Linked DNA regions of Homo sapiens: region 1 is linked to region 2. The links come from fine-mapping of genetic effects on gene expression. A gene starts in region 2. The other region holds a variant in brackets. All regions are shown on one strand. Distances are from middle to middle.

What was found.
Region 1: its variant is fine-mapped to the expression of LINC02402 in testis (GTEx, PIP above 0.99).

Annotation. Positions count from the first base shown.
Region 1 is chr12:42,601,914-42,618,321 of GRCh38, forward strand. It overlaps LINC02402 (long intergenic non-protein coding RNA 2402), which reads right to left. Exons shown (of 6, transcript NR_110042.1): 6 at 13,590-14,049. Among named protein-coding and RNA genes, the nearest start is that of PRICKLE1, 20 kb to the left of the region's middle. RefSeq lists enhancers at 1,255-1,755, 1,756-2,256 and a silencer at 9,700-9,900. The variant C/T (reference allele first, on the strand shown) is at 7,193.
Region 2 is chr12:42,636,761-42,653,168 of GRCh38, forward strand. It overlaps LINC02402 (long intergenic non-protein coding RNA 2402), which reads right to left and starts at 9,738. Exons shown (of 6, transcript NR_110042.1): 1 at 9,510-9,738; 2 at 7,467-7,534; 3 at 6,557-6,664. LINC02451 (long intergenic non-protein coding RNA 2451) reads left to right here and starts at 9,823. Exons shown (of 5, transcript NR_135027.1): 1 at 9,823-9,894; 2 at 10,343-10,479; 3 at 15,700-15,823. It also overlaps the pseudogene LOC390308.

The sequences.
Region 1 (16,408 bases), 35 kb before region 2:
AATATATGCATAAGTTTCAAAATTCAAGAGGTAAAATGTGTATATGGTGAAAAGTCTCCCTCTCACCTTTTCTCCTAACTACCCAGTCTTTCTCCCCAGGCACTGTACTTTCTAGATGCCAAGATAAGGTAGGAAATATGACTAGTTGCAAAGCCCTCAAAGATCAAGGTTTATCACAAAAGAAAGGCTTTAAATTTCTTTTTTCAAAAAAATTCTTAAAAGGGAGAATTTAAGCTCTTAAGAAATTTGTCAAAAGGATGCCTATACAAAGGATCTGGAGTAAAATAACGAAGAATAAACTCAGGAGTTGCTACAGACAATGTGGGGGATTTTCTCATTTCTGAGCTCTTCATCTCTTAAAGAATTTAAATAAATACTTAATTGAATTCCCCAAATTCTACCCCATTAAGAAATGCAGAGGACAGACTTTGACCTGGAGTATTTTGAGGAAAGAGATTACCCAAATTCCTATTTACTTCTTCTCTAGAGAAGTCTTAATTTAACTCCTGAATCATGTTTGATTTTGAATACACAAAAGTCACAGCCTGACTTTTGTTCCAGGATAATTCAGCTCAGAAATGAAGTCCTATATATCTGAGTGGGGGAAATCTTTTAAATAAAATCGTTTAGTGTTATCCATTTATATGTGACAGTGTATCTGACAAAGGAGTTGCGTTTGACATAATTACTATTTAGCTGTCCTTCTAGGCTATAATTGGTCAACGGGTTCAACTGCTTTTAGAGGCCACTCCTGAAATGTGAAAGTGGTGTCGTATAATCAGTATGTAGAAAGGATCCTGATCCTCTGTTGGCCAAAGTAGGCACCTTGGATTTGGAGCTGGTACCAAACAGTTCAGGTACCAGTTAATACCGGGGGGAGGGGGCGGTTATGGTCAACTCCCTTACGTGGCACTACCAATGATGTTACTGTTGGTCAGAAAGCGAATCCTGTGCTGGCTCTGATTCTCAGACTAGTAGGAAAATAAATGTTGTGAAGGAGCATTAAAAGCCTTGGATCAATGCACATCGCATGATGTAGCCATAAATCATGACCTGTAGAATAAAGAACTGACATCAGATCAATAATTGCCAGAAAAATTAAATTTTTCATTACTTGAAACAGAAAAGTAATGGTTGAGTGGTTAAACCTAAAACCTTCCTTCACTTCAGGTGACTGGGAGACCCAGCTCTGTAATTTGTTGAAGAGAAAGCAGCTGGCATAGAATTTTGAGGGAATGAGATAAGTTAAACTGGGTAGATCTTATTTCTATTTTTAGTAGTCTTTGAGTCCATCAGTTAATGGAGATACAGATTTCTTCAGGGCCTGTCAATTACAGTAGAGGTTAGAGAGCCCCAGTGACAATTCTTCCTTGGGGGTCCTCCTCTGCTTAAGACATCTCTTAGGGAGAATTTTGGAGTCTGCAAAACAAGAGGTCCTGTCCCAAAGCTGCCACAGCAGAGACAAACATTGACAGGGATCTGTGATTCACGGTTCCTCCCACTGCAGTCCTGCTGGGAGCAACAAAGCCCCAGCCACCATGTACAGCCTAAGGGACAGGTGTCCCACTGAGGCCAGGAGTACCCTCCTCCCCGCTCCCTCCACCCTCTATGCATGCACACATTGTAGTTTTTTCAGAAGTTCCCCCAAATTACTTTCTTGCTAATCTGCCTGTCTTTTCTTGTCTCCCTAGCAGTTCCTTCCCAGACATAGGACAGAAAAGAAGGGTGGGATTCCCCACTGGAAAGCTGTTTCCACATTTAATTGATCTGTAATTCATAGTGGCCCCAGCTCTGAAGCCCACTCTGGCCTTAACCCATCGTTCAGCCAGATACTTAATGACCTGTAAACAACACAACAGCTGTTCACAGGGGTCCATATAGTCAAAAGACCCCGAGGTGAATCTTTTGTAAGGCAAAGCATCTTTTTGTGTGTGATGCAGAATCCCTTCCTCTAATTTATCTGCTTTATAGGTTAGTGCACTCCAGGGCTCTCCAACCATAAACGTAACATTTGTAGTTAGAGTCATAGAAGAATGCTGATGAGATTTCCAGTTAAATTCAGACAAAATGGGGTCCGATTTTCTCATGGTGGCAGAGTGGCTGTTAACATCCCATCCTTCACCTCTGTTTCACGTTAAAGATCAGTGCTTTAATTGTTCTAGCTAGCAAGGAACCAGATGCCCCTCCTCTTTAACAGAGAAACACACATTTCATTTGCCCAATTTTTCTTTGACCCCAAGAGAAGGGTAAGACCCTTTGTAGGGAAAGCACTAAATTCGGAGTGAGAGGCTTGGGGAGAAGGTGCCCTATAGCAGCCAAACAGAGGGAGAGCGCAAATGCCAGGTAGAGGCTACGATTGTCCAACTCGTTCATTAAACTTCTGAGAAGGCAATGTATGGTAGGAATGCTTTATCTCCATTAATGGAAGTATTATGCCACAAGGAGAAAAACATTGTATGAATAAACAAAGACAAATAGGCTGTTGTAAAAGGAGTAGTGTTTTGATAACTTCCATTTCTATTGTTTCTCTTGTACTGAAAAGACATATGTTCATCATAAAAATTTTGAAAAGTATAGAAAAATACAAAAAAAAAAATCCAAAAATACAAAGCCCCAGCCACCCTGTACAGCCTAAGGGACAAGCATCCCGCTGAGGCCAGAAATGCCCTCCTCCCTGCTCTCTCTACCCGCTATGCATGTCTTTTTTTCTGGGCATATATGCACTATAACAATTGATCACATTGGACAGGTGAAACTTGCTTTTCACTTAACATATAGTGAATATTTCCCATGCCATTTAATATTATTTTATAACCACAACTTTATGGCTATATGATACATTTTTAGGATATTAAAACAACTTTTAAAAATAAACATGCTGGGCTTCATACCTAGGTGATGAGTTGATAGGTACAATACACCACCATGACACACATTTACCTATGTAACAAACCTGTACATACTGTGCATGTACCCCAGAACTTAAAAAATAATCAATCAATCAATCAATAAACATTCTTTAGTAGTGATGAGCATACTTTAACTCTGTGCTCATCCATTATTTTCTTAGGATAAACTTGTAAAAAAATTTCTGTTTTCTAAAGCTGTATTTGTCTCAAGTGAAGGGGAAAAAGACTCACTAAGCCCTGTTTGCTAGTTATTAATACCAGGGGGCAGCATAGAATAGTATTTTAAAAGCCTGGGTCTGTAGTCAAACCATCCCCATTTAAACCCCACTTCTACCCTCTGGATGCTTGGTTTCCTCATCTGTATAATGAGGATAATAATGGTGCCTGTGCTCTAGGGTTGCTGGGTGATATAAATGAATTCATATAGAAACACACATCTGGGCCGGGCATGGTGGCTCACGCTTGTAATCCCAGCACTTTGGGAGGCCGAGGTGGGCGGATCACGAGGTCAGGAGATCGAGACCATCCCGGCTAACAAGGTGAAACCCCATCTCTACTAAAAATACAAAAAAATTAGCCAGGCGTGGTGGCAGGCGCCTGTAGTCTCAGCTACTCGGGAGGCTGAGGCAGGAGAATGGCGTGAACCCGGGAGGCGGAGCTTGCAGTGAGCCGAGATAGTGCCACTGCACTCCAGCCTGTGCGACACAGTGACTCCGTCTCAAAAAAAAAAAAAAAAGAAAAGAAAAGAAACACACACATCTGACTCATTATGATACTGCCTCCTTTTAATTCCACCAATGGCTCAGTTAGGTGGGCACTATTATGGCTATATCTGGAAGCACATGTGCAGAAATGAGAAGTAAATTACCCAGGGTGGCCAAACTCAGATGCCATGTGTCAGCTGCAAAATTCATTCTTTCCCCCATTATACTATAATTATTAATTTTATCTATGTGGAAACCCAATTTAGATACTGAGCTCTGGAAGTAAAGGTTTTCAACCTCACTTCAAATCTCTGCCTAAGTATAGCTGCCTCAAAAAGAAGTGACTGTCTGGCATACCACTGTAAGCCTCCTGGCTCTTGTCACAAACTTATCTTTTGAACTTACATTTTTATTGTCTGTCTTCCCCACTAGAATGTATGCTCTCTGAGAGGGAGTTGTGTTGTTTAAATGATTTAGCACCAAATCTGGCACCTGGAAAACTTGTGTCAAATAAATATATCTTATCATTCAATTATGTATATAGCCTAAAATGCCAGATCATTGTCAAATTATCTCTTTTTGTTTAAGCTATTAAGATTATCTACATGTATCAGATCACCTGGATAACTGACAACTTTTCCTTTCACTTTTTACTAAAAGCACCTTTGATTTTTTCATAAAGAGCATCAAATTATAAGTACATTGATAAATATATTGATAAAATCATAAGCTACAATAGGTATACAAAACACATGATTGTCAGTGGTGAATGTAGTGTTTTTCTCTTCTATCCAATTCTTTTCAGCAATCTTCTCCCGAAAGGAAAAGGACTCAAATATAAATACTTTCCTAGAAACCCTCTCATTTCCTGAAGCCCAGAGTTATACTTGCCCAGTACAGACTGTGTATACAGGGCAGGTTGGCTGACTGATCCATCTCACAACTGGATCATTCCATAGGCAATAGCAAGTACAATCAGACTTCAAACCCTTTGCTTTGCCTAATTTTCTTCATTGCTTTTTCTTCCTCTATCTCTTTCAGAATTCCCACTTATTCTTCAAGTGTTATGTGAATATCTATTCTCTGTAAAGCCTGCTCTTACTTCCCTTCTACCCTGGGAGAGAATTTGGCTCTGTTCATTGTACTTCTTTGGCACAATGTACGTAATGTGACTATGGCTCTGAGGACATTATATTGCATTTTAAAAAATTTGTGTTCTCATGTAGACTGAGATTCTTGAGGACAGGGATCATTGCTTACAATGTTGCATAGCATATTAGAGGTTCTGCTGAATGAATGAACTATATGTGTGAGTATGTGTACTTAGAGTTTGTTAAGTGAGTAACAGGAAGCTAGGGGAGATTTTAAGTAAGGGAGATTTTAAGTAAGTAACCAATGTATGGCTTAGGAGTACATGTTTGACTGTCCGTTACTCTACCCAAATCCTGGCATTCTGGCTTGTAGGCATGTGCTTAATTGCTAAAACTTACTCTTTCAATCTTAGACATTTCATTTGAAAAAATTTTGTTTCCTTGTTTGGTGCTTCTGTAGCCTGGCTCTTCTCTCCAAAGATTGTAATTTATTTACTTTTTTCCCTCAAATTTCCTTATACATTGGGTGATATTTTACCTTCTTATTGGTACTTCCACTGTCAGAAAACACTCATCTTTTTCAACACTGAAACCAGTTGACTATAGGAAGTGGGTGGAGAATGTCGTGCCACACACTGCTCAGTAGGGTTAGGAGCTACCATGCATGATTTCAAGTTTCAAGGGGATTCCAAGCAGCCAATGCATACTGTTTCTATCATTGTTTTTCCTTCATCCACTGAAAGCCTTAAGAGTAAGGTCTATGTCTTATTCATTGCCGTGTCCCCAGCGTCCATTAAAGTGTCTGGGATCTAGTAGATACTAGGAAAAAAAAGTATTTAATAACGAATGACTAACTGATCAAAGGAAGGAATGAGGCTTCTGAGCTGGAGAACATATTTGATTTTGAGTAACTCTGATACTCCCCAAAAGGGTGAAGGTGGCAGGAGCTGAAATCTTGTCAGTATTTAATAAGGCTCTGAGGCTCATATTACTGTCAGAGGCATTCGAACCAGAGCAACTCCATCTTGAATAGTGGCTGGGTAAAATGAGGCTGAGACCCACTGGGCTGCATTTCCCTGAGACAGGCATTCTTAGTCACAGGATGAGATAGGAGGTCGGCAGGAGATAAAGGTCACAAAGGCCTTGCTGATAAAACAGGTTGCATTAAAGAAGCCAGCCAAAACCCACCAAAACCAAGATGGAGATGACAGTGACCTCTAGTCGCCCTCACTGCTCATTACATGCTAATTATAATGCACTAGCATGTTAACGGACACTCCCACCAGCGCCATGGCAGTTTACAGATGCCATGGCAACATCTGGAAGTTACCTTGTAGAGTCTAAAAAGGGGAGGAACCCTCCATTCTGGGAATTTCCCTTTCCCAGAAAACTCATGAATAATCCACCCCTTGTTTAGCATGTAATCAAGAAATAGCTATAAGTGTCCTTAGTCCAGCAGCCCAAGCTCTGCTCTGCCTATGGAATAGCCATTCTTTTATTCCTTTACTTTCTTAATAAACTTTTTTTCACTTTATTCTGTGGATTCGCCTTGAATTCTTTCTTGCGTGAGATCAAGAATCCTCTCTTGGGGTGGTCTGGATCGGGACCCCTTTCTGGTAACACTACCATTAAAGAAAATGGTTCTGGAGCCTTTGGAGAACTCTTTGGCAAGAAGTCCGGTAAGTCCGTGAAGTTCATCTTTCCTCACAGGGAGTTTACCAACTTGAATGCATGTTTTGCATTACTGAGTTGACTGGAGATGTCATTTGCAGACTTTCGCTTTGGAGTTAAAGTCAACAACATCATTCTTGCATTTTAAATGAGCTCATGTTTGCCCTGTTCCCATCAATTCCTCTTTCTTCCTCTGCTGTTTTCCCGTTTAAGTTAAGGTTCTTTGCAGAGAAGAGGAGAGGCAGAGAGGGAGTTCTGCGGCTACTGCCACGTTTTCATGGAGGATGAGTGTTCCCTGGGACAGATGGGAAGGAAGGTGACACATCAGCGTTCCTGAGTCCTGGGAGTGGGCTGCAGTTATGTGGGAGATCTGGCAAACTTGCCCGAAGCTAAGCTCTTAACGCTGTTTGCTAGTTGCTGACTTCTTGTTAAATAGCTCTAATTGTAGACACTATTCCAAGATGAACTATGTTTTATATATATTAAATTGTACACTATTAGATTTCATGTTGGTCCCCAGAGATAGTTTTAGGCCGATCATGCCTTTAAACAAACAAACAAACAAACAAACAAACAACAACAACAACAACATACCCGGGAGGCTCTGCCTGGTTTCACAGCTGGGCCCTGGCCTGTGGGTTTCAGCCTGTGATGGACTCTTAGGTAAAATCGACCTGAGCTTCCAGCCTTGTGTTGCATGTTGTGCATCCTTCACTTTCGCAGACACTTTATTTTCTCAACATCCTATTGATATTTAGGAGACAGAGTAGCTGCAGTGATGTGTCACAGACACTCAGGAACTTTACAACACCCAGGA[C/T]GCTGGATTTCTGGTCTGGAAGATGGTGAGTAGTAGGAGCTGCCTTTACTGAGAGCCTGGCTTTAAATTGTTCTTTAGGCTAAAGGAACCACAGCCAAAAAAACAGATTGAGGTGGTGCTGCTTCTGCTGATGACACAGGCTTTCTGATGGCCCGAAGGAGCAGTTCTCTCTCCTGGGTCTGTGGGGCACAACTGAAGGAAATCACTCGCTACATCTCAATCAGACCTTTTCTTCTCACTCCTCTTCACTGACACAAATTCTCACAGAAAGTTTACAAAAAAAAAAAATTATCAGAGCGTTTAAGAAGCCTTACTCCATGTGAATTATAATTTAGTGGGATCATTTTCCAGCGGATTTCTGAGGAGAGAAAAAGGGTGCTTCTTTATAGGTCCCCAAGTTACACATTTAATCTTTCTATTATGTTGGGATTCTAGATGGTTTACACTTATTTAAGCTTCGTTGGTCACAATTTTTTTTTCTAATGGCTAAAATAATGCTGGTTTTTCACGTCCTGTCATCCCACCCCATTTCCTAGTTTAGTGTTCCCTGTTCAGTCACTCGGTGGTCACTATTATCCTGTATCTTCCCAGTATGTGACTACTCTCTCACCCTTTATTTTCAAAAACAAATTTTTATTTTTATTTTAGTAACAGGGTCTCGCTGTATCACCAGGCTGGAATGCAGTGGCGCAATCACGACTCACCGTAGCCTCGACCTCCTGGGCTCAAGGGATTCTCCTGCCTTGGCCTCCTGAGTAGCTGAGACTACAGGTGTACATTATGTTGCCCAGCTAATTCTGAATTTTTTTTGTAGAGACAAGGCTTTGCTATGTTGTCCAGGCTGGTCTTGAACTCCTCGCCTTAAGTGATTCTTTCTCCTTGGCCTCCCAAAGTGCTGGGATTACAGGTGTGAGCCACTGCACCCGGCATCACCCTTTCTTAATGGTGGGCTTCCAGCAGTGATATTGTGTCCGGAATTGGTGGGTCCTTGGTCTCACTGACTTCAAGAATGAAGCCGTAGACCCTCGCGGTGAGTGTTACAGTTCTTAAAGGCTGCATGTCCGGAGTTTTTTCCTTCTGATGTTCGAATGTGCTTGGAGTTTCTTCCCTCTGGTGGGTTCGTGGTCTCGCTGGCTCAGGAGTGAAGCTGCAGACCTTTGCGGTGAGTGTTACAGCTCTTAAGGCGGCACGTCTGGAGTTGTTCGTTCCTCCCTGTGGTTCGTGGTCGCACTGGCTTCAGGAGAGAAGCTGCAGACCTTCACAGTGAGTGTTACAGCTCATAAAGGCAGTGTGGACCCAAAGAGTGAGCAGCAGCAAGATTTACTGCAAATAGCTAAAGAACAAAGCTTCCACAGTGGGGAAGGCCACTGGCGGGGGTTGCCACTGCTGGCTCTGGCAGCCTGCTTTTATTCTCTTATCTGGCCCCACCCACATCCTGCTGATTGGTCCATTTTACAGAGAGCCCAGTGGTCTGTTTTGAGAGGGCACTGACTGGTGCGTTTACAATCCCTGAGCTAGACACAAAGGTTCTCCACGTCCCCACTAGATTAGCTAGATACAGAGTGTGGACACAAAGGTTCTCCAAGTCCTCACCAGAGTAGCTAGACACAGAGTGTCGATTGGTGCATTCACAAACCCTGAGCTAGACACAGGGTGCTGATTGGTGTGTTTACAAACCTTGAGCTAGATACAGAGTGCCGATTGGTGTATTTACAATCCCCTAGCTAGACATATAGGTTCTCCAAGTCCCCACCAGACTCAGGAGCCCAGCTGGCTTCACCCAGTGGATCCTGCACCAGGGCCGCAGGTGGAGCTGCCTGCCAGTCCTGCCCCGTGTGCTCGCACTCCTCAGCCCTTGGGTGGTCGATGGGACTGGGCACCGTGGAGCAGGGGCAGCACTCGTCAGGGAGGCTCTGGCCGCACGGTAGGGGCGGGGGGTGGGTTGGGGGGAAGGCTCAGGCATGGCGGGCTGCAGGTCCTGAGCCCACACCCACCCAGAACTCATGCTGGCCCACCAGCACCGCGCGCAGCCCCCGTTCTAGCCCGCGCCTCTCCCTCCACACCTCCCTGCAAGCTGAGGGAGCTGGCTCCTGCCCTTGCCAGCCCAGAAAGGGGCTCCCACAGTGCAGCAGCAGGCTGAAGGGCTCCTCAAGCGTGGCCAGAGTGGGAGCCCAGGCCGAGGAGGCCCCGAGAGTGAGCAAGGGCTGTGAGGGATGCCAGCACGCTGTCACCTCTCAGTATGGGAATCTGATCCTTCCCTCCCTGGCCACGGCTGATTAGGTCAACGGTGTGCACCTGGGCCAATTAGAACTTTTTTTTTTTCCCCTGGGTTTCTAAGGAAGCTCTGTCTCTCTGTGAGACTGAAACTTTGGAATTATGGGCAGCCATTTCATATTCACTGGGTGGACAAGTATCATCACATTAAGAAGGATGAAGTGAAGGGTTGTGAGGAGACATGGAGAAAGCTTTCACCCCTCTTCCCTCCCTGTTCTAGTCTTCCTGAGGCCTCGCTGTCTTCCTGTTCTTGGGTTATATGAATCACCTCTGTATCTTTATGATAAATCTCCTTCTCCTACCTTGTTTTTTTGGCTCTAGCAAGTGTGAAGTTTTCTTCTGTTGCTTCTAATCAAAAGAATCTTCACTAGTCTGCATTTGTCGAGTCAGTGTTGCAGTTGGCATTGTCACCACTCCAAGAAGCAGATGAAGATACAGAGGGGAAGAGGGAAAAGTGTAAACACACAGTTCCTCACCAAGCTGGGAAATGGGAGGTTTTCTTCTTTTTTTCTTTCACAGTCATAGACTCATTCCTTGAGGGGAAATTTGTGGCGTGTGCAAGAGGTGGGAGACCAGAGCCAAGGACTGCAAATAATAAAGAGCACGATGTAGCTACAATCAGGAAAGAAACAAGGATCTAAAAGGCAGAGTCAAAGTTGAAAGTTTCACATATGGGAATGGGCACCCAACAGAAAGATCTTGGTCTTCTTAGGCAGATAAAATGCTGAGTCTTGGGCCCCTCCCTAGGGATCTAAGGACTCAGGAATGATTTATTCTTGAAAGGCTGATTAAGATGTTTTGAAATTTGCATACTGGCATCTTTTTGCATACCAGGAAAACTAAGAGGACCTTGAAAGTGTTTTGATAATCACCACTCTCTTTTCCCCTTTTGACATGGATAATTCATATCCCATTTTCATGTGACTAATTCAAATATGATTATTATCCAAACAGAAATATTCTTGTACTTTCATTACTGGAAAATAACTTTCTGCTTGTCAGAGCCAAGTTGAGGAAAAGTCAGCATTGTCTGTTTCTCATAAAGCACATTCTTTCTCTGTCTCATGCCAAAATTCTGTCTCAGTTGGAAATAAAGTGGACAAATCTTCACTGTGGCTGATCTATAGCTTTATAAGAGAAGGAATATATTATGATTCTAACTCTGTCCTTGGGACTTGCTGTTCTGATTTCAGGTTACATGAGTAGAATATTTAAAAATCAGGGAGAGTACATATTCAGAATATGGGCATAAAATGGAAATGTTAGATAATTTTTTATTTTTGACATTAAAATGTTTTTCATAAATTAACATAAACAAAAATCACAGAATGGTTTTTACTTTTACTTAGGAAGAGCAAGGCAAATAAATGTTATTCACACATTGTATCAGGCAAAAATGCAAATGTTCTCCCCAACTAACACCATTAAAAATATTGCCTCTCACAAGTTTCTCCTGGCAAAAGTTAGTTTCAAATCTACAATTTAAATATTATGAGCCAGGCGAGGCACTGTGGCTCACGCGTATAATCCCAGAACTTTGGGAGGCTGAGGCAGGTGGATCACTTGAGGTCAGGAGTTTGAGACCAGCCTGGCCAACATGGTGAAACCTTGTCTCTACTGAAAATACAAAAAATTAGCTGGGCGTGATGGTGTATGCCTGTAATCCCAGCTACTCGGGAGACTGAGGCAAGAGAATCGCTTGAATCTGGGAGGCGGAGGTTGCAGTAAGCCGAGATTGCACCACTGCACTCCAGCCTGGGCAACAAAGCAAAACTCTGTCTCAAAAAAAAAAAATAAATAAATATTATCAGCCAGGTATGGTGGTGCATGCCTGTAGTCCCAGCTACTTGGGAGACTGAGGTGGGAGGCTGAGATGGAAGCTTGAGGCTGAGCCCAGGACTTCAAATCCAGCCTGGGCAATATAGCGAGACCCCATCTCTAAACCAATAATAACTATTATGTGCACAGGGGTGAAATACAGATGCTTCTTTCACTAATATAGGCTGCTCTGTCTTATGCTTTGTGTTAGTAGATGCATTTGAGTAGACCATATTCTGTTTTTATCTTCCTTCCCAACCTGAAATGAGCAAATGTTTCATGGGTTTTTCCTTCTCCTTTTGGTTTCCCCTCATTACACATTTTGCCAGATGGCCAAGGAGTTTCATCTGGAAAAGAATTTTCCATAATAATAGATCATTTGGTACTCACGGCCAATGATCCCACTTCCCCCTGCCATCTACAGGAACCATGGGATGGAGTAAAGTGGCAAATGAGTCATGCCTGGCAGAGCCTAGAGGAGGGGGAAAGACACAGCAAGCAAGGGGAGGCTTGGCTTGTCAAAGACCCGACCGAGAGTCCTAGGATAGTAAGAGCTGAGTGGTGTGTGTGTGTGTGTGTGTGTGTGTGTGTGTGGTGTGTGTGTGTGTGTGTGAGAGAGAGAGAGAGAGTGAACCTATGTACATCCTCAGGAGATACTGTGTGTGTAAGTATTTTGGAGTGTGTAGCTGCAGGTCATTCTGACAGATGCAGAACATGTGTGGCACAACTTTGTATGGCGAAGAGGAGGACTGGGGGAAGACAGGAACATCAATGTGCTGCAAAATGAGATGAGGCTGAGATCCTGGGTGTGTAAGCAAGGGCCTGGTCAAGGAAGCTGTAAAGAAGTGCAAGGGTAAAAGGAAAACTTCCTCTTTGTCCTCAGAAGGTTCAAATCACTCCACAAAAGGCAGGCTAATTGGAGAAAGAGTATGCTAATTTATCATTAATGTTTACATTGTAGATGGGAACACTTCAGAATGAAGACCCAACTCCCCACTGGGGTGCAGAAGCTTATATGCCATCTCAAGATGACAGAAAGAATGGGGACTTGGTGCATGGCCAAAAACAAGTTGTGATGGTAAATTGGGTTTTAGTGGCAAGACAGGTTATGGGAAGGAGAGAACAGGAGACTTGGCTAGCAAAAGTGATCTTATTATGTAAATGGAACCTCAGAGGTAGCAGTCCTCAGTGAGATTAAATGGTAAATTTCTCCCCCGCCCAGTCCTTTAAAGATGTCAGACTCTCAGTTAATGTTTGCTGGGTCTGGATGAGGGAGTGTCTGGCTGCATCAATGCAGATTTTCTACAGATGCAAATTTTCTCCACAAACCACAGGTTTGGAGGGTGCTACTTCATTTTGCTGGCTCTCTGGTAGCCATCTCAAAAATATGTCAAAGAAGTGTATTTTGAGGAAAAATATTTTTCTTTCCTTCAGACTCCACTTTGAAACGTTAAAAAATTTTCACATATTAAAAACCAAGTTGATCCCACTGGAGGGATTTGGGCTAGATGTTGCTAGACAAAGGAGTGGAGACAAATTGGGATAAACACAAAAGAACGACTTTAAATATATCAACCCATATCTTCTTTAATCAGCCTCTTAGCCCTGAGAATAGATCAGTTTAGTTAAATGGCTGTGTCCCATTCTAAGAGGTGGCATTGCAGATAGGATAGGCCTCTACATATGATGTAGGCAAACAGATCTTTAATAAGAGGCATTTCTATGGAAAAAGAAGAAAAAGGTTAATATCTGGAGTACTCTATAGACTAATTTTTCTAGAGTCTCTGAAGCATCTTCAAATTGCAATGGCAATCTGACAGATTTTTCTGGATTGTAGTTTGAATTAAGTGTTCAAGTAAACTTTCTGAGTAGTCCATACATCAGGAGGTGAGAAGATGATTTATAAAAGTTGCTTGGATTTCTCCTGAAGTTCATTTAAGTTGCTTAGCTTCAGTTTGCAAGGCTTTAAGAAAAGCACAGTTTTAGTGTCTAGTGATTCCAAGTCAGGAAAACGAAAGAAGCATTTGGAAATATTAGTTTGGAGACGTGTGGCCAGAAAAAAATTCAGAATTCAATCCAAAGTGTAGGCATATAATAAAAACTCAAAAATAATGGACACAGCTGGAATCTCATAACAGGTATACTCTAGTTTTCTTTTGGAACATAATTTTTATTTCTACGGTCCTCTATTTCTACCAAAGACAAATTACAGTAGGACAAATGTATTTTCAAGATAAGTTTTAGTCTTATTATACTTGGCCTGGTTATTTGCATAAAGTGCAGCAAGAATTGTGATTGGCTATATAGGCTTTTTTATTTTTATTTATTTTTCTTCTTCTTTTAGAGATGGGATTCTTACTATGTCATTCAGGCTGCATATAAACTCTTTTAAGACTGACTTTGCTGGAACTTTTTCATAAGGAATCTCAGATTAGACTTTTAAAAGCCTCAAGGCTAGAAGCCATGCCAAGGATTTGCCATCAGACTATTGCAATATCTGTATGAATTGGGTGAGTTCCTCTTTCCTCAAAGTGCTCAAATAATTTGAGGTTCCTGGGACTGTCAGAAAGTGACATTCCTTAGTTACCAAAGGTCAGGGAACTTGTAAAGGAACCTTGCAGACAACATACCAGACCAGCCTTTCCAAGAAGCTTTTTTTGAGCTTTATAAGTCAACCTTAATTCCTCAAAGCAGTCTGGTCATTATGGAAAATATGCCATTCCAGTTAAATGCTTTGTAAAGTAACCAGTATCTCCAATTGTGTCCTGTTAGAGAAACAAACAAACAAACATAAATACAACAGATCTTTATTGAATTTATGCAAATAACTATATTGCTATAAATTAAAAATATAGTTTCCAAATTCTGGAGAAATGAGTTAGAGAGAAATATAAAAGCTTCAGGTTTTGCTCACAAAATATACTTTACCCAATTTGTTGTAAGCTTGAATAGCTCAAAAGAAAAAGTTTTCTTGACCCTGGAAGACAAAACGTTAAAAAAAAAAGCAGTGTTTCAAACAAAAGAAATCATAAAACATCATTTTAGTCCTCTGTTAGTTCAGTCCCATGTAATTAATTCTTGTTTTGCCTGATGTTGGGCCAGCAATTCTCATGAATGCTGGAAGTTTTTATTTATTCCAATGGTATAATCTCTAAAGCTATCAGAAACCTGAATAAGAGTACTTGTCAGAGCCTTTTCCACACATTTTCTTAAAGAAGCAATTTTATACTGTAGCTGATTATAAACCACTTTTTGAGAAGAATCATAGTAAAACAATAATTGTCTGTGGATGACAAAAATCTTAGAATAACTATGGCTAATGACATTTGACAAGGACATTTGGTTATTTCTATGACATGCAATAATTTAACATAATAATCATAATTATTATTAACATATACTAAAATATATCAGAATTTTAGAAATCTCATAATTTTGGAATATATATTAATAATGCATTTACACAAATACAATGCAAAGAAAGTTAAACACCATTTCATATTTGACAATGCTTCCTGTATGATTTTAACATACTAAATAATCCTAATATAGCTCGTTTGAACTTCCAGGGGGCGTAATATAAATAAAGTTAGTCTGAGGTTAAAAAAACTGAGTTTAGAATTTGAAACGTTGATTTAGGAAAGTTTGTCAAATATCAAAAGTTTAAAACGCTTGCTCAAAATAGGATCACAGATCATTATAAAATAATAGTCATTAATTTAGCTAAGTGATAATGAAAACATTTTAAAAAGCAAAACATTTTACTCTTCAACAGAGAGGACACTCAGTTTCCCAATTATAAAACCTGACAAAAACACCATAAGGGAAACAAAAATCTGTCTCTCCCTCTCTCCCCTCTCTTTTTCTTGTAGTCTAATGAAAAGTTAAACAAAAATATTTTTCTGTCTCTTATTAATACTATACAAAAATCTTATTCAAAAAAGAAATCCAAATTCTACCTTTGTGTTAGTGTATAATTAATGTTCATGCTAATTTTAATAAAAACTTGTAAGCAAATATATCCAATCTCAATCAGTTTTAACCATAAGATTTTTATAAATATTTTATAACCTCTTACAATTTTTCTCATTTTTTCCAACTTTTTATATCCATTTAGTTTATCGATTTTTAAATTTCTTTAATATAATCCAACTTTTAAAAGCTAAAACCAACTTTTAGAAGCCAAGTAAATTTCGTTACTTTCCCTGTAACAAAAACCACATTCTCATGCCTTTTTATAACTTTTCTTTTCAACCAAAAGTCCTTCCTACTTTCTTTATATACTTTACATATGGAATTGTTTCTCTTATATCTAATAGTTTTAATTACATATATTAATTAAATGTTTACTCTTAATAATCCTTATTTTTTATGAAAAGCCTCAGCAGTAAGCAATTTTAATCATGTACGAGATGTAATGTCCAGGACAAAAAACAGAGCTGTGAAGACAATGCTTAGAGGATATAACCCCTCTCAGCATGGCCAAGAGGCACAGCTGAGCAAGGGAGGAAAGGGCCTAAGTGTTGTCCCCACACCCCACTATGGTCACTTATCTAGACTTCAGAATCTAAAGGCTCAAATCCAAAGATGTAAGCTCACAGACAAATTATTCAAGTATTAAAAATAACATAGAAGCAACAGTTTTATGACCTTAAAACATTTATCAGGACAGTATAAACCTGTCTGACCAATAGACCCAGGCAAAATTGTCTAAATTATATTCTAAAGATGTTTTTATTTACAATTTAACAAACTATTTGCCAAAGATTACTAAAATCATACGAACTTAAACAACATTTAAGCTTATTTACCTAATTTATGAGTGCTCATTTATTTATAAATCAATTTGGTACCATATAGATAGTATACAAACAGACAATACACATGAACACAGAAAACCATAGACAGACATCAATAAAGGCTTTATAGTTTTGATTTTAGAATTTTAGCCATGAGAATAGTAAAACTCACTAATTTAAAGGGACAGCGGGAGGAAAACTGTGCCTTTATAAATGGAAAACTTTAAGGTTTATCCTGAGAAACGCTTATTGAGTTTTAGAGAAAACCAGATAGCAATTTATATCTCAAAGCATATACATAGAGATAATTTAAGCTTTTTCAATA
Region 2 (16,408 bases):
AGTCATTCTAATTAAACAATCAGGTAATTTCACGACAAGTATCAAAACTGTCCACTTAAGTTTCTTTTTTCTTGATGATAAGAGGTCCCACGTTGACTCCAGTCTCTTCGTTGTGTTTTGTGTGAGACCCATCACAGAATGGGAATTTTTGGACCTCCAGAAACGGCAGTACACAGCATTATCTCCCAAATCCTCCATGTCAAAAGCATGTACTGTCTTGGGGTTGTCTTTCTGGATGTGAAGGTTTATCACAGCTTTATTTCGATGATCTTTAACATAAAATCTTTTGTAAGCTAGATAACCAATTGCAGCTGTCCCAGCAGCAACGGTAACTGCTGCCATCCATTCAACTCGTCCGCTGGAACTGGAAGTCAGACTCATGGCGCCGTCGCTTGCAAGGCGTGTGCACTAGGATACCGAGCACAAACGGGTTTGCGCGGCCAGCGAGAGTCAAGGTAGGTGCCAGCGGCGTACTAACGTTACCGACTCCGCGCTGCTACCGCCGAATTACTTTCTTGACTTACAGACTACATTAGCAAATTAAGGGATCTGAAAAGGATCTGAAAAGTCCTGTAGTAGAGACCTGTTTAACTTTTTTAAACCCAGGACTTTCTCAAATTGTTTGATTTTTCAGTTTCTTTTGTTTTTTGAGACAGAGTCTCACTCTCTTGCCCAGGCTGGAGTGCAGGGGTGTGATCTTGGCTCACTGCAACCTCCGCCTCCTGGGTTCAAGCTATTCTCCTGTCTCAGCCTCCCAAGTAGCAGGGACTACAGGTGTGTGCCACCACACCTCGCTAATTTTTTGTATTTTTAGTAGAGACAGGGTTTCACCATGTTGGCCTGGTCTCAAACTCCTGGCTTCAAGTGATCCACCCACCTAGGCCTCCCAAAGTGCTGGGATTACCCGTGTGAGCCCCACTGCACCCTGCCTCAAATTGTTTGATTACAGAATTCTTTTTTGGGAGGAACATTTGTTAGTTGATCAAATACTATTGGGAAAAGTTACTCTATCTAATAGCATAATAATTGTAGATTGTCACAATTGCTTGCTAGTTTGATACTGAGTTACTGTAGTGTCTTGCTATAAGCATTAGACAGACATCTGAGTGTGAATCCTGAATTTTATACTGTTGGTTCGGTTACCTAGCAGTCACGTTCTCTTAATCATAAGGGAGACAGAGCGAAAGAGTGAGTTAATACCAGAAACATTGCTAGAAAAATAGACACGTGTTTCTGATACTATCATATTTTATGAAGAGTGATGTATATGAATACTTCTGGCAATGTATTTTGCCCAGACATTCTACATCCTCACTCTACACCTCCAGAGAAGAGATCTGGGAGATCTGGTTGCCATTTGACAGTAGACTCTACAGAGGAAGGAGCAAGGAGCTCTTCCAGAAACACCAATCAAGTAGAACAATGAGAAAGAAGTAAACACAGTTGAGCAGGAAATTGGATGGAAGTGAAGTAATTCTTCACTCTGCAGCAGAAGTGGTTAAAGGCAACCCCAGTTTTTCTTCCCACCATTCTGCCATTAGGCATAAACAACACAGAGCCAGGCAGTAAAGAAATGATAAAGGAGGACTGAACTTTAGGGACTTCTCTCTGGGGGTGGGACTGCCTTTTGCTTGGCTCTAGAACTAGAGGGACAAAGACGGGTCCGGAGTAAAGGAAGTAGGGCACAGATTAGCTGGAGGGAGAGAGATAAGTAGACCTCTGGGTTTCCTTTCAAATTGCCTGGGTTGATTGACCAGGATAGAGAAGGAGGCCAAATCCTGGGCTTGCTCATCCCGTCCCTCACCACGCAAGGCATTTCATTTCTCCATGCTTTTGCATGCCTTGTCTCCTTTGTTTCTTCTTTTCTTTGTTTTTTTTCTTTCCTTTTTTTTTTTTTTTTTTTTTTTTTTTGAGAAAGGGTCTCTCTCCTTTACCTAAGCTGGAGTACGGTGGCCTGAACATGGCTCACAGCAGCCTCAACTTCTGGGGCTCAAGCAATTCTTCTGCCTCAGCCTCCCAAGTAGCTAGAACCACAGGTGTGCATCACCACGCCTGGCTTTTTTTTTTTTTTTTTTTTGTAGAGGCAAGTCCTTGCCATCTTGCCCAGACTTGTCTGGAACTCCTGGGCTCAAGCCCTTCTCCTACCTTGGCCTCCCAAAGTACTGAGATTACAGGCGTTAGTCATTGTATCCAATCCTGCCTCCTTTATTTCAAATGCCCTTGCCTTGTTCTCTCCCTCTATGTGCCCATGGAACTTTGCTGATTTTTCTAACTTAAGCTCATAATATGTTAATGGTATGCAGCGAGATTGGGAGCTTTTTGAAGGGCAGAGATAATGTCTTATTTATCTTGAGTATCTTGCACTAGGCTCAGCTTCTAGCATAAAACAGCTTTTCAATTAATGTTTGTGGTAGCCAGGGAGATCAGAAATCTCAACAGGATGCCTCTAAATAATCTTTAGAGTACTCATGTAGAGTTCAGTGGTATAGAGCTTTAGAGCTGGAGGCTATCTATAGACCCTCCTCATTTTACAAATAGGGCAGTGATAGTTCACTCAAGAGGCAAGCAGCGACCTAGGACTCAGGCCTCCTGCCTCTCAGTCCTATGTTCTTTTGACTCCCTCAAGGTGGTTTGTGTAATTAAAAAAACCCTCAAAACTCACACTACCCAATGCTGCATGACCCTTTATGAATTATAGTATAAAGCAGTATTTCATGTAATATTTGCATCAGTGAAAAATGCAGAGACATTGAGCTAGAAAGTGATTTAAGGAGGATGTTCTGCCTCCACATAGAATGTGTTCCATTTCTGAATTTTTGCATCCATTGTGTGCCTTTCTAATTCTTGGCTTAGCTTGGAAGCTGCAGTTAAAAAATGCTGGGTGAGAAGCTATTCTCCTGGTACTTTCAACTTTATTGGAAAGAGAAGGTCTCATAAATCACATAAGGGAACTGGGGCCTGTAGGATTGCTTAGTTGCCAAGTGAATTCTGATTGATTGCTTTGGAAAATATGTACATTTTCCAGGAGCTTATCTGAAATAAAATAAAGATTCATACTTTCTCAGACTGAGCTCCCACTCCACCAGATTTCAATCATAGTCTGGTCATTTTAATCCAGTGAAAGGGCAGTTAAATGAACAGTGTAAGCATTAGAAGTGTAGTAAAAAATCTGAACAGCAAAGCACAAATGTTATTTCAAATAGAGAAAGGTTTGGAACACCAAAAATACTCCTAACTAAACATAAAATTAGAACCAGATTCAGGTTCTATGACTCGTGTTGACTTAAGCTTCTTCCTAATAATGGCCAGCATATCAGAGTGGAGAAATTGTTGGGAAAACCATGTTATCAGACGCAGGTATCACTTCCGTATCAGGAAGCACTGTGAATTAGGATTTCAGGAGAACTGAAATTGTGTGTGTCCACAGAGAGCGAAATTAAATGGGAGGAAAACATTTGGATCTTAATCCTTTGAGGTCACAGAAACTGTTGAAAATCTATGAAAGCTGTGTAAAAATTCACATGCATATGAAAACTTTCAGACCCACGATGCCCATAGGGTGCTGGGAACCTACATTAAGTACCTCTTATTTAACTATTTTTCCTAGAATTTCTGGTTTCTATATGTGGCAGATCTGCCTGGCTGGCACCTGGAACTTCCAGCCTCTTCACACACATACACTGTAGGGCCAGGTTGTAGCAAAAAAAAAAAAAAAAAACAGAAAAGGAAAAAAGAGGACAGAACATCTGCTGTGAGGCTGATTCAGTTTTACTCAGGGTGAACAGAAGTGGCCTTAATCCCCTACAGATTTCCTTTACTTTGTTGTTATGCAGAGGGATCATCTGGCAGAGATTTTAAATTTTCTGAGCATTTATTTATACTTTCATTTGTAGTACGTCTGAAAGGAAAATGCAAACTTTTAATTGGACTGACTTGGTAACTTGGTTCAGTGATAGGCTGGGTTCAAAATTGCTCCATCCCCGTTTATCAGATGATTACAGTTTAGGTGGGTAGCAAATTCTGCTTTATCTTGGAGATACACAGTTTAAGAGATTTTCTAGTCTTCATTCATTACCATTTCTTCTGAATTCATCTCTGGTGAACTAAGGAAGACTTCTTGCTGTATGATTAGCCTACTGAACATGATGATGCATTCCTGAACAGACATGGGAAAGGCAGGTGGATAATAATAGTCTACAGCACTTTTTGTTTATCCAGAAATCTGCCATCCCCAGGAGGTTGACATATAATCCCATACTTAATCTGTCATCCATACTTTATGTAATAATAATAATAATGATAATGATAATCATTTACACTTATATAGCCACTTTCATCTAGGGTATCTTAGAGCTTTACAAACACTAATTAATTCTCCTGGTCTCCCTGTGAACTAGGTAAGGCCCGTTTTACAGGTGAGGCATTTGAGGCACAGAAAGGACGAATGGCTTTCTCAAGGCCCTTGGGTACTGAATGACAGAGAGCTCTGTACTTCCAGTTGTCTAGAGCCAGCTGCATCTTCTGGGTGAGTGAGTGGGAGGGACCACACCAGAATAAGGCCTTCTAAGACTTGGTTACCTAAACCCTAGTAGTGCATAGAAGCTCTGGGAGAGTTTCCAAAGTATGTGCTTTTTCATCCCCAGCACACACATGCACAGCCTGTGAGTGGTTGTTTTTGAGGTCTAAGCAGTAGAGGTGGAGTTAAAGTTGGCTGTCATATATCTTTGGATAGGAAGGAAAGGAAAGAACGTGGGCAGAGAATTGCATTTTAAGTGGATGTTGCTGAGATGTATCAGCCTACTCTACACTGAATCAGAGTAATCCTGACTTTTGACTTGTTTTATTCTGTTCCACTACATGAACCATTTGATATGTACATAACAAGGATGCAATGATTAAAGAGAGTCCAGTATGCAATTGGCAAGGCACCTAATGGAAACTAGCTTCTCACTGTTTCCAGGCATTTTAGTTTTAGAGAATCCTTGAAATTCTCCCAAATGGGTGGTGCTGAATTCAGGGAAAATGATGTTTAATGAGTGCTTCTCTCTCTCTTTAATTGCAAGAAGAAATAGACAAATGAGGGCTTATCAAATGTTAATATGCATACCAGTCACCTAGGGATCTGTTAAAATACAGATTGTTGCTTAGTAATTCTGGAGTGGGGCCCAAGATCATGCTTCCAGTTGATGCCCATGATAATGGTCCCTATAGCTTGCTCTGAATAGTGAGACTCTACGCTACTGTTTACAATTCCGATGAGCTTATTCCCACAACATACTGCTCTGGAGGAAGCTTCGGTCAATTGGAGTGAGGCCTGGGCTTACAGGACCAAGGCCTGGTTTGGAAAAGTGCTTCTGCTCTTTATTATCTAAGAGGTTTGAGACCCCAAACCTTTCAGAGCCTCAGTTTTCATATCTTTAAATGAAGATCATTAATTGCTCCTTTGCAGATTTGTTATGCAGATGAATAAAATAACCCAGGTGAAAGAGTCTGGCACGTGCTGGCTGGGTGCGGCGGCTCACGCCTGTAATCCTAGCACTTTGGGAGGCTGAGGTGGGCCGATAACTTAAGGTCAGGAGTTTGAAACCATCCTGGCCAACATGGTGAAACCCCGTCTCTACTAAAAATGCAAAAAAACTTAGCCAAGCATGGTGGCACACGCCTGTAATCCCAGCTACTTCGGAGGCTGAGGCAGGAGAATCGCTGGAACCCGGAAGGCGGAGGTTGCAGTGAGCCGACGTCATGCCACTGCACTCCAGCCTGGGCAGCAAGAGTGAGACTCCGTCTCAAAAAAAAAAAAAAAAAAAAAAAAGTTTGGCACATGCTATAACTCCACAAATGTTGATTCATTCTCTGGGCTCCCCAACTTACCCTGTCTGGTTACGTTCTCTAACAAATACTTTATAGTTTTCCTTCTGTATCTGCTGTAATTAATAACTATATTTTATCTATCTTGGCTTTTTCCTATTATTTTACCTCTGGATTCTTTCTCTTAAACATGTATAAGCCAGCATCAAATGTTAATATGTCTCTCAATATCAAAATGCTTTCCTTGAGCTAATTTCTTGTCTTGTTAACTATTATAAACTTACCTCTGCCTTCCTGGGTTCTAATTTGATCTAGGCCATGCAACACAAGTGAGACTGTATGGTATTCATTTAGTAAACAAATATTTATTAAGCACCTACTATGCTATGTTCTGATGCCCTGGGTATACATACCACTGAGAATAAGATAGAGACTTTTTGTTTTCCATATTGTTTTTGTTGCCTCTGTTTAACTGTTTGAGCAATAGCGAAGTCTTTCTTTAATTCTCCATTTATTGATGAAGACTTTCTCTCATTTTCTTCTAGTTCCATTTTTGTCTTTTCCTCTTGCCCACACTTATCCTTTAGATCTTTTCCCTCTGAATCCATCAGACTGACAAGAAAATTCTTTCCTAAAAAGTCTTTACAAAACTCATATTGTGTGAAATGGTTTTAATTTTTAATAAAAAGCAACAGTGAAAGTTAAGTATTGTATACGCATGGGAACAAATGTCTGGAATAACACATACCTCACTGTTAACACTGGAACTGGTGAGAGGAAACTTTCACCTTTATCTTTATGTACTTTGGCATTTTGGGGAAAAAAACTCTCCCCCTTACAGTCAGCAAATTGTATTCTGTAACACAGAAAAGAAAATGAGAAAAAGTATGGGCCAGGCATGGTGGCTCATGCCTGTAATCCTAGCACTTTGGGAGGCTGAGGTGGGCAGATCACCTGAGGTCAGGAGTTTGAGACCAGCCTGGCCAACATGGTGAAACCCCATCTCTACTAAAAAGAAGAAAAAAATACAAAAATTAGCTGGGCGTGGTGGCATGTGCCTGTAATCCCAGCTACTCAGGAGGCTGAGGCAGGAGAACTGCTTGAACCTGGGAGGTGGAGGTTGCAGTGAGCCGAGATTGCACCACTGTACTCCACGCTGGGCAACAGAGGGAGACTCCGTCTAAGAAAAAAAAAAAGTATAGATTGATGGACGACAAAAGGAAGGTTGAAGAAAAATGAAATGAAACTTACAATCTTCAAATTTGCCCACATTCCCACCTGTAGTTTTATGTCTCAATTGCTGAGTCTGTTATTTAGGTTTCAAATCACTGGTTTGGAACCCCGTCTTCCTGGGATTATGCAGTGTCAAGAACACTGTTGACATGAAAGCAATACTAATAGTAAAACAAGAGGAGGCATTTTTACAAGACACAGCACTACCCAGATGGATTTTGATAAGGTTGGTATGTACCCCAAGAGGTCATAATTAACCACATCAAAGAAGGAGTGGCTTCTTAAGCAAATGGACTTTATCTTGCCATCTGCCAAAAAATGTACCAAATGCTCTTACTTTGTTAAAAAATATCTGCACTTTTGGAACCAAGTCTTCGTAGCTTTGAACTGACAAACGTGATTGAAGAAATACTTTTATTACTTACACATTTGACCTCTCATTCTTTATTTGGCACCTTGCTTCTCTTATGTCCTCCTCGCTTGGACACATCATCTACAATTTACATAAATGAGAAAGTACTGGGTCATGGCTTAATTGGGAACAGAGAGGAGTTATCTGATAAAAACAGAGCAGGAAGAATTTAATTTCCCTAGCTCATGGTCAATTTTCATCCTACCAGCTGGCATGCTGGATTAAGTAGTTGTTAGAGAATTGAATTTAGCAAATCTAACGTAGGCAAAACTGCGTTAGAATTTATGTAGGACTCAACCTGGTTTCTGATTAGAATCCTCTGAAGAGGTTTTTGCAGATTAAGCTTGATTTAATTGGCTAACTTTGGAATTAATAAAAACAACAACCAAGGCCGGGCGCGGTGGCTCACACCTGTAATCCCAGCACTTTGGGAGGCCGAGGCGGGCGGATCACGAGGTCAGGAGATCGAGACCATCCCGGCTAAAACGGTGAAACCCCGTCTCTACTAAAAATACAAAAAATTAGCCGGGCGTAGTGGCGGGCGCCTGTAGTCCCAGCTACTTGGGAGGCTGAGGCAGGAGAATGGCGTGAACCCGGGAGGCGGAGCTTGCAGTGAGCCGAGATCCCGCCACTGCACTCCAGCCTGGGTGACAGAGCGAGACTCCGTCTCAAAAAAAAAAAAATAAAAAAAAAAACAACAACCAAACAAAACAACAAGCACAAAACACCTCTCCAGGTATCTCTAACGTGTAGCCAGGAGAGCTACTTCTGGGACTGAGCCAGCCTTATACGAGGTCTTTGGACTACACAGCTTTTAATTAGAGACCACATGGTTCTCTTAAGGAATAATAGATACTCTTCAAATTTATTCTTTCCTGTGATTTTTAGTTTCAGGTACATTTGAAAAATAATCATAGGTGTAAATGAATAGATTGGAATGGCCCAAGAATGTACTGAACATTTACAATTGTGTTTCAGCCTTGGTACTTTTACTTTATGTATATAAAACTCTAATATTATATTTCTCTGTAATTAATACTTATTTCTTAAATGTTATTTAATGAAGTAGTTCACCTTTATTTCTGCAATGATTATTAAATTATCAATCTTTTTCAAATGCAGAATAAAAATTTGCCTACCCTTGACTGTAAGTTTCTGGCTAGCACTGGAGTTTCTTTCACTGGAGGCATCTTCCTTAGATTCTTTGCCTGCCTCTTCTTTTTGGTGGTGCCATACTAGTTAGACACACCTCTACTGTTTCTCTTAGATTTAATAAAGGTGTTGGAGGCTATTCTTGCTGTTTTGTGGTTTTTATTCTATTTCTTCATTTCCAATATTACTTGGGGATATCTTTTTGTCTATGCTGTTCCCTATTCCACCCCTTTCCAGGGAGTTCTGGGCACAGCATTTTAGAATGTACAGAGATAAACCAGAATGTGCCTCATCATGCATAATCCACATGCCAAAGGACCTGCAAACCATGTTGGGTGATGAACATTTGAAGGAAATGAAGGCAATTGCCCAAAGAAATTATGATGTGAAATTATATGGTAAATGATAACTTCCTTAATATATTTTTCTTCCTTAATAAAAAGAATTGTCCTTTTTAATTATAGAAAACCCAGATCCTCCAAGGCCCTAACCCTGTTCCTTGATATGCAACTTTCTTTAGGTCAGGGATGATACTCATCATTCACCAGTGTTGCCACTTCCTCTGTTGTATTCATGATTGATAGGAGTACTAATTGATCAAAGCATTCTTTCCTGCTTGAATCTGGATGTGGCTTCAGGCAGCCACTACTAATTGATTGGTATTGGTGTTAAAAATGACATTATGTGTAATTCCTACCTTAAAGGTCTCTTGCTAATTACTGCTGCCAGGAGGATAATTCTGCCCTTTAACACCAAGGGGGCTTCATGATCTATATTTAAATAAGTCTCCTGCCATAATACCCAGATAACAGTTGAGACAAAACTAGAATATTTATTAAGACTGTAATTAAGTGTAAGTCACTAACAAAGTGGAAATAGAATAATATAAACTAGATAATCTTGCCTGTTCTTCCCTAATCCATCGTTAGCCTGGGATCCTCTAGCAGGATACCTCTTTGTATATCTCCTGGTTTTCCTCCATGAGGAAGAGAGAATTTTAAACTCCTAATCCTTTGGAATATTTCAGAATCTTCAGGACTTAAAAATTCAGATCCAAGAAAATGAAGTCCCAAGAGAGAGGAATTGTTCTATTTGTTGCTTTCTGAATTCTAGGTGAATTGCCTGATATTACTGAGGACTGGCAACAGAATGTTCATATGACATGTCTTTAAGAGAGACCACACTTAACTACAATTCTACTATGACCTCAAAATCCCAACATTCCTTCAGCAGAGCCACACTCTTAAAGATTATAAATGTTGTCTTCAAATAATTGAATATTTGAAGGTGTAAGTTTATTGCATATTTCTTCCAAGGGTCAGCTAGATCAGTGGGTAGAAATCAGAGGGGGGCCAGACCTGAGTTTAACAGAAGGTTATGTTTTCTACTAATAAGACATGCCCTAATGTTATTAAGCTGCCTTATGTTTTAGTGCTCCTAGTCATTGGAAAGATTTAGACAGTCTGGATTGCCCTGTGCCAGAGATAGAGTTGAGTGGACTCCCTTAGCAGATGGAAAATTGAACTTAATCTCCCTTCCCTTATCAAAGAATCAGGAGATAAGAAGATTCAAATATTCAGTTATTTGAAGACAATATTTATCAAAGAATCGAAGACAACATTTATCAAAGAATCGGGAGATTCTTTGATAAGTTAGGTATAGCTACCCTACACGGTACAGCAGGAGTATTTATAAGGAGGTAATCTATAAACCATTTGAACTTTTCTATCCTGACAGTTGCTGGCCAATGCAGGACTGATTATAAGTAATGATGACACATCTGTAACTTCTAAATGGGAAGGTCTTCGAATGGGATTGAAAAGACAAAGTGATGAAAAAATAATTGTGATAATACATACTGTTCCAGGTTTTAAGTGAGTACAACATAGCTGCATTATAATATAAAATTGTACAACTTAAAAATACACATATATGCAATCTATAATTACAAGTTTATGTGTACAACCTAGTCTATTTCTAAAAGAATTGTTCACATAATTTTGATCTTAAAATTGTAAGATGGAATATTATGTAACTAACATAACACTGCTACGGAAAATATATAATGTTGTGGGGAAATATTCACACACTACTGAAGAAAAGCAGATCATAAAAATAACATGAAGAATGATTCTACTTTTGATGGGGAAAAAGTATACATTTATGTTTTTAAATATAGATTAAAGGTGCTTTTAATTTTGTAAGAAAAAGAAGACTGGAAGGATGTACCTCAAAAAGTTAATAATGGATATTATAGGGGAGTAGAATTAAGGGTGACTTTTGTTTCTATTTTAAATGTTTTCTAAAATTTCCAAAGTTCTTAAAATAAGCAGACATTACCTTAGTGTTATCTTAGTTTTATATTTCTGCTGTAACAAATTATTACAAACTTCATAGTTTAAAAAACATGAATGTATTATCTTATGGTAAGATAATGTATTATCTTATAGGTTAAGAGTCCAATGCAAATTTCACTGGGTTAAAATAAAGGTGTTTATTGGGTAAAATCAAGTGCTGCATTCCTTTCTGGAGGCATTAGGGGTAAATCACTTTCCTCACCTTTTTCAGTTTGTAGAGGCTGCCTGCATTTCTTGGCTCATGGCCCCCTTCCTTCGTCTTTGAAGGCTGCGAAGTTGCATCTCTCTGACCATTCTTTCATAGACATATCTCCTCTGATGGGCTTCAACTAGAAAATGTTTTCTGCTTTTGGCATTCTCTTGATTAGTTTGAGTTTACCTAAATAATCCAAGATAATCTCCACATCTCAAGCCCTGTATCCTTAATCACACTTGTGAAGTCCCTTTTGCCAAGTAAGGCAACACAGTCACAGGATTCGGGGATTATGACATGAATATTTTTGGTGGGGGAATGCATTATTCTGCTTACCACATGTGGTCGGGAAAAGAAAACATTTGTAAAAATGTGTTGAATCCCTACTGAACTCATTCTTTCCAATAGAAACGAAGTCATACATGAGGCCATTCTCCAGGCTAGTCATCAGAGCCTATGTGACCCATGATAGAGGGGATTTTACTTTTTCAGTAAACTTGTTCAAATGGTCCTGTTAGTGCTCTTACACATCAGTACCTGAAAGAATGAACAATAACAAGTTCAAATGGTTTATAGATTACCTCTTTACAAATATACCTATGGTACTGTGTAGATTCACTATATGTAACTTATCAAAGATTCTCCCTCTGAAAGGGAGATTTAGCTCAATTTTCCATCTAAGAAGGGAGTCCATTCAACTCCATCTCTGGCACAGGGCAATCCAGACTTTGTCTAAATCTTCCCAGTGACTGGGAGCACTCTATAACATAAGGCAGCTTACTAACATTAGGGCATGTCTTATTAGTAGAAAACATATCCTTCTGTTAAACACACATCCGGCCCCACTCTAATTTCTACCCACTGGTCTAGCTGACTGTATCAGGAGAATGTATTCAGAGTTCCCAAGTGGATGCCAGGAACATAACCCTACCCTTTTTTTTCTCAGCCTCTGCTTTACTCTCTTCTTTCTCCCTTATACTTATTTTTGCCTCTCCCGTCTCCTCATATGTTCGGGAATACTGAGTGGAGATTCCGTTTTCAGTCTTTAGGTGGTGATCCCCATGGCCTGTGGCATGAGTTCAAGCAGGATGGGGGTAGGAAGTGAGGAACAGCTGAGGAATTAGATGAGTTTGAGAGAAGGTAGTTGTGGGACCTCTTTTTTGGTGTAAATCTCCGAAGGTATCCTGGGAGGCTCCCGTTTCTCTCCTTCAGTTTTCCCAGTGGCCCAAGTGATTGATTCACCTGCTTCTTTTTACCTATCGCCACTAGTGTCACTGAAGGCTTCTGTTACATTAAAAGAAAATCCTTAGCTAAATTAAATTTAATGGAGTTTATTTGAGCAAAGAACGATTCGCCAATTGGGCAGCCTCCAGAGCCCAGGTAGGCTCAGAGACTCCAGTGCACAGCCACGTGGTGGAAGATTTATGGATGGAAAAAGGAAAGTGACATATGGAAAATGGAAGTGAGGTACAGAAACAGCCAGATTGGTTACAGCTTGGCATTTGCCTTATTTGAACAAGGTTTGAACAGTTGGTTTCCTTTGATTGGCCAAAACTTGGTGATTGGCACAAGAGGAGGCTATAGTCTGTTGACACATCCAGTTAAGTTACAGTTCGCTATGAACAGAGAAACCTTTATGCAGAACTTAAAATATGTAGGGAGGCACCTTTAGGCTACACTTGACTTAACAGTTCTTACTTGCTCACCATGGAACAAAACAGTTGTTCATACAAACCAGAGCCCTTCTGGAGTTTTCTGAGGGCTTTTCTATCCAGCAACTGGGGACAGAAAACTCTCACATGCTCCCTTCTACTTATCTTGTGTTCGGGTTATGTAGCTCCAGGTGCTAGGGAAGGAGCGTTGCACGGAAGGGCTGCCTTAGAAGCTGGGGCATGGGGAAAGGCCGGCAAGAGGCTCCGCTGTTGGGCCAGGCAGTGGCAGGTGTGAGGGAGAAAGTCTGCTTTCCCTCTGTGGGGTGAGCTTTCCTCCAGCCTAGGCCAGCACAATCCCAGTCCCAGGTGGGTGGATCCCAATAAACAGAGCAAGTCTGTCTCCTTACAGTGTTCCAAAGATGGCGAGTGTATTGTTTTCTCATGTTCTGAGCTAGCTCTGTAGTTAGTTGAGGAAGTGTCTGGAGAAGGCTTTTCAAGGACAAGCCTCAAGTTGTCCTCTTTTTTGGCATTTAGGGGGAACATTGCCCCTGACTGGGAACTAGGGCTTGCCTCCTGATGATTGCAAGCCAGAAATAAAATCCTAAACCCTCCAACTGACTGAACTGAACAGACCCCCTCTTGGCTGAGGGAACCCCAGAGAAACCCAAAAAACGAAATTCCAGGCCATGCCAGGAAGGGAGGCTGAACACACCTTGTTGTACTCTTTTGGGGTTTAGGTTAAAATAGAGGTCACAAGACTGGCAAAACAGAATCTTTGTGGCAATGGGATACCAAATTACAAAGAAGACCTAAGGCCATGCAAGGCAGGGGTTAAGTCACATCCTACAAACCATAAAATCTGCCCTCCCCCACTTTTTTCTGAGGCAGTCTCCCTTTGTCACCAGGAGTGCAGTGGCATGATGACAGCTCACTGCAGCCTTGACTGCCTGGGCTCCAGGGATCCTCCCTTTTCAGCCTCCTGAGTAGCTGTGACTACAGGTGTGCACCACCATGCCAGGCTAATTTCGTATTTTTTGTGAAGTCAGGGTTTTGCCATGTTGCCCAGGCTGGTCTCAAACTCCTGAGCTCAAGTGATCTGCGCACTAAGTGCTATGATTACAGGTGTAAGCCACTACACCTGGCTTTGTATTGATTTATTAATTGGTCTACAATTCCCATCTCCCTAACATGTATATAACCAAACTGTAACCTGACCACCTTGGACACACTTTCTCAGGACCTCTTGAGACTGTTCCCTGGGCCATGGTCACTCATACAAGTTCACAGTAAGCCTCTTTAAAATATTTTAAAGTTTGGTCTTTCCATTAACACGATGATGAGGAGGATGACAAGTAGCTGCCATGTGCGAGTGCTTACCATGTTTTAGACTGTGCTGAGTGCCTACCTGAATCTAGTTAGATCTTCATGATGATAGTATGACATAAGAACTATTTTATCATTATTATGTGTCAGTGATTTCAAAATAACACAGAAAACATATAACGCTATACACTAAGTTAATGATATATGTAAGCCATGCAAAAAATATTGAGAATAAAATACACTGAATAAAGCACTGAAGTCATACAAAGGGCTTAGCTATGGTTGTGCTAAGCCTTGGAAAAACAGGTGGAATAAAATCCAGAGTCCTCTCTCCCTCTTTCCCCCAATTTACTCTCTTTGGATGGACCACACTGCAGCCGCTCTGGTGCTCTTTCTATCCCTAAAACACACCCAGCCTATTAGAGGCCAAATAGTGCCCTTTCAGTCCCCTAAAGTCATATGCCCAAGTCCTAAGCCCCAGTACCTCAGAATGTGACTGTAGTTGGAGATGGGGCCTCTACAGAGACAGTTAAGGTAAAATGAGGTCATTGGGGTGGGCCCTAATCCAATATGACGTATACTCAATACGACCATGATATTATGATGTATATATTTTGGGTTTTGTCCATGATTCCGGGTTCTCAGCTCCTGTAAGCCTTGCTGTTTCCTAAGTGACTAGAGCAATAAGAATATCTTTTGTTAAATTATTTGGCCTTTTGTCCTGGGTTCTTGAAACACCCTAGAAACAGCTTCAGAGAAGTGAGGGAGAAAGATGTTTTTTTGTTATTCGTAACAAAGCCTTTTCAACCACATCTGAGCTGGTGTGAATGAGGTGATTTTTGGAAACTCAGGGTGGGCAAATGATGGGGTGCTCATTGCCAGGGGAGAACTAGCCATGTGGTCAGCCCCACACTCCAACCACCCAACAACCAGGGAGGGGAGAGAGGCTGAGGTTTAAGTTGATTACCAATGACTGATTGATTTAATTAGTCATATCTGTGTAACAAAGCTTTCATTAAAACCCCAAAAGAACTGGGTTGGAAGAGCTTGTGGATAGCTGAGCATGCGAGAGTTTCCAGGAAGATGAACAAGAAGACATCCACGAGCTGGGAGGGTGGTGCACCCCAGCTCCACCCGGACAGAAGCTCCTGGGCTCATGACCCTTCCAGATCTTGCCCTATGCCTCTCTTCATCTGGCTGTTTATTTGTATCCTTTAAAATATCCTGTGTAATAAACCAAGTAAGTGTTTCCCTGAGTTCTGTGACCTGCTCTAGCAGCTCGTGGGAGCCCTGGTTTATACTTGGTGAGTCAGAAGCACGGGCAAAATAACCTGGGGCTTGCAATTGTTGTCAGAAGTGGAGGGCAGTCTTGTGCAGCTGAGTCCTCAACCTTTGTGATCTGATGCCCTCTCCAGGTAGATATTGTCAGAATTGAGTTGAATTGGAGGACACCCCGCTGTTGTCCTCTGTGCAATCACTTGCTTGCCGATGGGAGAAATCCCCACACATCTGGTGTCACAGGCGTGTTGTGAGAGTATAGAGGAAAATGGTTTGCTTTTCCACCTATAGACACATACAGAGGGAAAATGAGGTGAAGACACAAGGAAAAGACAACCATCTATGAGCCAAGGAGAGAGGCCTTAAAAGAAATCAACCCTGGCATCTTGATCTTGGACTTCAAGCCTCCAGAATGGTGAGAAGATTAATTCTGTTGTTTAAGTCGCCCTGTCTGTGGTGTTTGTTATAGTAGCCCTAGCAAAATAATACAAAGCCTTTTTCTGTGCTAGGAACTTTGTGCTTTGCATTTTCTGGTTGGAAATCTTTGTTCCCATGCTCAGTTCAAATATTCCCCCCTCACAGAGGCTGTCCCCACCTGTCAACTGAAATTACTGCCCCCACTCCCAACAGTCAACCTCTTACCAGCAACCCCCAGCACAGGAGTCTGTTCTGTATTTTTTATACTTCTATTAGCACCTGATATTATTTACTTGTGTTACTGTTTATTTTCTCTTCCCTGATCCCTTCTAGAATGTAAGCGCCTTAAAGGTAGCCTCTAGTTCATTTTTATGAAATAAACTGCTGTCAGTTCAGAGCCAGGGTCTGGTGATTAAAAAAAAAAAGAAGAGGAAATAACCTTATTATTATTATTTTTTTATTATACTTTAAGTTTTAGGGTACACGTGCACAATGTGCAGTTTATTACATATGTACACATGTGCCATGTTGGTGCGCTGCACCCATTAACTCTTCAATTAACATTAGGTATATCTCCTAATGC